Regions from separate parts of the Homo sapiens genome. Here region 1 is linked to region 2. Evidence: fine-mapped expression QTL. A gene starts in region 2. The other region holds a variant in brackets. All regions are shown on one strand. Distances are from middle to middle. Region 1 overlaps NF1 (neurofibromin 1). Region 2 holds the start of OMG (oligodendrocyte myelin glycoprotein).

Region 1 (2,808 bases), 140 kb after region 2:
AAACTGTGCCCCACACACTGCAACAGAGGAGCTACAAAAAATGTTAAATGTCTTTCCGTAAATCTCTTTACCTATTTATAAATGGTCCTGCTTTTGGGGGGAAAATACTAATTTTTTCCATAAAGAAGGTAAATGATTTTCTACACCTCCAGTTTATTAGTTTTGTAAGTTTAGGGTATTGTGTAAGCAACTTTCTTAAAAGGAAACACACCAAGGATGATGCGAACAAAAAGTTAAACACCACATGCTCTCACTCATATGTGGAAGCTAAAAAGAGTAAAAAGTAGAAGAGAGGACACTAGAGGTAAGAAGGGTCGGGTAGGGAGAATCGGGGTGGGTAGAGATTTGTTAAAGGATACAGAAATATAGCTTTATAGGAAGAATAAGACTTAGTGTTCTGTACTACTGTAGAATGACTATGTTAACATTATATAGTTAACTTTTTTTTTTTGAGACGGAGTCTCACTCTGTCACCCAGGCTGGAGTGCAGTGGCGCATCCTGGCTCACTACAAGCTCCGCCTCCCGGGTTCACGCCATTCTCCTGTCTCAGCCTCCTGAGTAGCTGGGACTACAGGCACATGCCGCCACACCCCGCTAAGTTTTTTTTTTTTTTTTTTTTAGTAGAGACGGGGTTTCACCATGTTAGACAGGATGGTCTTGATCTCCTGACCTCGTGATCCGCCCGTCTTGGCCTCCCAAAGTGCTGGGATTACAGGCGTGAGCCACCATGCCTGGCCTACAGTTAACATTATATAGTTTCAAATAACAAGAGAATATTCAATATTCCCAACACAAAGAAATGATAAATATTGAGATGATGGATATGCTAATTACCCTAGTGGGATCACTATGTATTATATGTATTGAAACATCAATATGTACCCATAAACATGTACAATTATTGTATGCCAGTTAAAAATAAAATAGAACAAGAGAAAAATTATCTAAAATATGGGAATAAGGCAAAAAGGTAACTTCATGTCTTTTCAATGTCATACTAGAATATTATCTAATAAACCTAAGGACCATCTCAAAAAAAAGGAAGGGGGAACAATCTTCACAATCTATAACCAGAAGTTGTTTCACAACTCAATACAAACAAATACAAACTGGGATTATAAATGCAGGCTGGGCGCGGTGGCTCACACCTGTAATCTCAGCACTTTGGGAGGCCGAGGCAGGCGGATCACCTAATGTCAGGAGTTTGAGACCAGCCTGGCCAAAATAGTGAAACCTCGTCTCTACTAAAAATACAAAAAAATTAGCCGAGCATGGTGGCACATGCCTGTAATTCCAGCTACTGGGGAGCCTGAGGCAGCAAAATCACTTGAACTGGGAAGGGGGAGGTTACAGTAAGCCGAGATTGCGCCACTGCACTCCAGCCTGGGTGACAGAATGAGACCCTGTCATTCATTCATTCATT[CATTT/T]ATTCATTCATAAATAAATAAATAAATGCTAAACACCAGCAGAGAGTTCAGAGTTAATCAAGAAAAATCCAGATCAGTTGCCATGAACTGAGTATGTTAGTTTGAAACAGCTTAGAATGGAGATGTTAAATAGGAATTTAGAGAGAGGAAGGGATCACTTGAGAAAGACAAAAGATGTTATATGTTCAAAGGTACAGAGGGAGGACAGCTGGAGTACTCTGAAGTCTAGGAAACGTCAATCGATTTTAGAAAATGGGAAGAAGAAAGAAATTATGAGCTTTTAACAGTGGAATTATTTGATGAAACTGGTATTTGAGAAAAACTGTTTCAACAACAGGGTAACTACTACAGAATCTGTCACAGGTTACAGAAGGAAGAAAAAACACATATCTTCATAAAAAAATCAATCCACATTTTAGGACTATGAGATCATATTTTATCATCTACTTAGGGCTGGGACAACCGTAAGTAAATTCAAACAAGATGCTAAAGAAAAATATGTGTAATGGATTACTGTGGTCAATTCGTGTAGGCCACAAAAGCTCTATGAAATCCTAATTCAAGAAACATACTGGAAAAGGAGACATGGTCACAAAAGATAGGAGATGTTTCTAAGGGAAATAATAAATTAAAATGAAAGTTACAGTTACTTGTGCTCACTGAATCTAAAACCCAGCTGATTAAAAATTTGACAAAATAAAATTAAAAGGTTATCTGTGCTCGTAAACAAAATAAGATTAATGGTTATATCCAAAGTCCACAGAAAATCACTTTCCATACTTCAAAATATGCTGTTCTAAACTTTTTAATCAAAAAGAAAAGAAAGCAAATTCCCCAAAACACAGTAACCCAAATACTCACCATATTGTTAACATTCTTTAAAATAGTAGTGAGGCCGCTTATAACCAAAGAAAACTTGTATTTGGAAATATTGATTAGACATTCCTTGTTGTGCTCAGTACTGACTTTGGTATGTGTGTTCTGCTGTCCTGTTTTTATTGGAAGCTGAAAAAAAAAGAAAAAAAAAACACGTTAACAGCTTATCCTTAAAAACGACCATAAATAACTTACTTGCCATTGAAAATCATGACGTTTTAGGAAAACTGCATCAACCACAGATACCTATACTTGCATCTCAAACTCCGATTTTCAATCAACCTCCAATATATGATACACAGATATGTACATTTGCATCTCAAACACCAATATATGATAGCATTTATTATAGCAAATCTTAAATTCTTTGGAAACTTCCATTTTTGCAGCTTTCTTTCTGGAAGTCATAAATCTCTATCTACAAAATAGAATTCTTTATCCAGCACTATATAAGAAGAAATGATGACTCACAGAAACAGAGCTATTTGCTTGTGGCTAAAAATT
Region 2 (2,808 bases):
TAAACTTCAAATTTTAATACAACAAATTCTATTTGTGGTATAATCTAAATAATGCTAATATAATTTAGAGAAAAACAAACGATTTAGTAACAAGGCATAAAGAGACTTTCCTTACACATAACATGCTAAATATTACTCGTTTTTAAATGGTGCCACTTGGTAACGAAAATACCGTAACTTTATTTGCTTTCTTTAAACTTGCCATTCTGGAAATCAGATTTGTGTTTTAACAGATTTACACAAGCAGTCCACTGAAGAGTGGAGCAAAATTTATCATAAATCTGATCTCACTTTATAAAACTCATGATGAAAAATTTTCCTTTTATATCATTTCATGTAATTTTAAAACTATAAACTACTTTCCCAGAAAGATGAAATGTGCAACACTCTGAAATCACCTAAATTGATACTGCTATTCTTAAAACATAAAATCAAATAAATGGTCATTCATACAGCACCAAAAATGTCTTTGGAAAAAACAATACTCATATCCACTTACCACCCAAGGTTGCATAAAGAAAAAAAACTTTAACTCCAAATATATAAAATAAAACATGTTTATTTTACATAGGAACTGATAATCTGAAGTATAAGATGCTAATTTCCAAATGTATCCTGGCTTGTGTGTAGCCTTGGTCAAATGATCATTGTATCAGAAAGATAAAGAAAAAATAATCGTATTTCAGTACTTCTATACATCCTAAAAGGGAAGACGGAACACTTAAGTGGTTGATAAATTTGAAAAGCTGATTAAACATAATAATCACCATGTTGGGGGAAGACATAAAAGTCATAAAACAGATTTTTTATAATATTAAAAAAGTGACATGAAAATTATACAATTTTAGAAAGGAATATAAAAAGGCAGGAGTTAAAAAATAGTGGGACTAATATCATAGAAAACTATCCATGAGGAAGGTCAAATTTATTTTCAACATGTAAAAAGGATAAAGAGTAGAGGTATTTTAAAAATTCACAGATTCTTAATGAGGCAAATGTTAAAATATGGAACCCAATCTCAGACAAATACATAGAAAGGAGTAAGGGCCAACTCTCATGCATAAGGTATCCCATCCTATAGCAAATCAGATATATAGGTACGCTTGATGCCACAAATTTTTTAAAAAATTGTCCATTTTGTTGCGTGTGCACCTCTTGCCATAAATTTGAGTCAGCACCAGCGACAGCTCTGCAGTCCTCCTATGTGGTACTGATCAGGTGGTTGCAGAGCTTCAGCTCACAGCAACACAATGCAGCTGAGCAGGCAAGCACAGCCCACAGCCAGAAACAGTTCCGACTCTACAGAACAAGACGACCTTTAAGTTTCCCAGAGAAAATGAGATGCTGATGTTGAAGACGACACCACGGTAAGATGTTATTTAAATCAGTAAAAGGCTGACTTTGGAATCTTTTTCCTTTTTCTTTTAAGAAAAAGTCAACGTTAGGATTAAATATATATTCAATAGCAAGTGCATGCACCAGAAATTTGCTGCAGTGTCAGTTGAGGGATATTTTTTATACATTCAGTCACTCTGTAAATATACATATTGTTTTCCTTTAAAATGGGCACTGAAATATACAGAAAAAAATCACTTTATAAAATGTGAGGTTTATAGGTACTGTGTTGGTCTGGATTTTTCAAGTGCTTTTTACAAAGATATATTTATCCTAAAAACATACAGATAAAATTTCGAAGAACTGCTTTAATATCTAAATAAAATCTACCCTATATACACACATTGAATTACATTACTGCAGAGATTAAAAAAAAAAGACACGACAGCCATTTTTTCTCATCTGAGTAAGAAAGCATATCATCAAAAATAGTAATAGCCTACAACTGCAACTATTTATTTGCAAAGAATGCTATTTTATCATATTAAGGCTCTAGAAAGATAAATAAGAAAGAATATGGTTAGAAAAGGGGGGAGGGAGAGAGAAAATAAAGGAGAAAATGCAGGAGAGAGTAGGGAGAGAGTCTCTCTCTACCACATAGCCCAATTGAAGGATTAAGCATTTGGACTATAAATGAAGGGGAGCTTTGTTAGTTTAATCACTGGAACAATTATAAAAGGACTCGACAACAACGAGGTTTATTGAAAATTTTGCCTAATGCTAACTGACCCATGCAGATGCCTAAACTGTATTTGCATATTAAAAGAAGGGTGTATCTGTTTGTTTCTAGGCTTTGATGGAATATCAGATATTGAAAATGTCTCTCTGCCTGTTCATCCTTCTGTTTCTCACACCTGGTATTTTATGCATTTGTCCTCTCCAATGTATATGCACAGAGAGGCACAGGCATGTGGACTGTTCAGGCAGAAACTTGTCTACATTACCATCTGGACTGCAAGAGAATATTATACATTTAAACCTGTCTTATAACCACTTTACTGATCTGCATAACCAGTTAACCCAATATACCAATCTGAGGACCCTGGACATTTCAAACAACAGGCTTGAAAGCCTGCCTGCTCACTTACCTCGGTCTCTGTGGAACATGTCTGCTGCTAACAACAACATTAAACTTCTTGACAAATCTGATACTGCTTATCAGTGGAATCTTAAATATCTGGATGTTTCTAAGAACATGCTGGAAAAGGTTGTCCTCATTAAAAATACACTAAGAAGTCTCGAGGTTCTCAACCTCAGTAGTAACAAACTTTGGACAGTTCCAACCAACATGCCCTCCAAACTACATATCGTGGACCTGTCTAATAATTCTTTGACACAAATTCTTCCAGGTACATTAATAAACCTGACAAATCTCACACATCTTTACCTGCACAACAATAAGTTCACATTCAT

What was found. PIP is the estimated chance that this variant, and not a neighbour inherited with it, causes the effect. A credible set is the group of variants that fine-mapping cannot tell apart.
Region 1: its variant is the best candidate, but not a certain one, in a credible set for the expression of OMG in blood mononuclear cells (TOPMed, PIP 0.53).

The regions. Positions count from the first base shown.
Region 1 is chr17:31,155,608-31,158,415 of GRCh38, reverse strand. It overlaps NF1 (neurofibromin 1), which reads right to left. Exons shown (of 58, transcript NM_001042492.3): 2 at 2,290-2,433. Among named protein-coding and RNA genes, the nearest start is that of MIR4733HG, 62 kb to the right of the region's middle. The variant CATTT/T (reference allele first, on the strand shown) is at 1,425.
Region 2 is chr17:31,295,715-31,298,522 of GRCh38, reverse strand. OMG (oligodendrocyte myelin glycoprotein) reads left to right here and starts at 1,284. Exons shown (of 2, transcript NM_002544.5): 1 at 1,284-1,367; 2 at 2,186-2,808. The coding sequence starts at 2,192. The region is part of intron 36 of NF1 (neurofibromin 1); the gene reads right to left.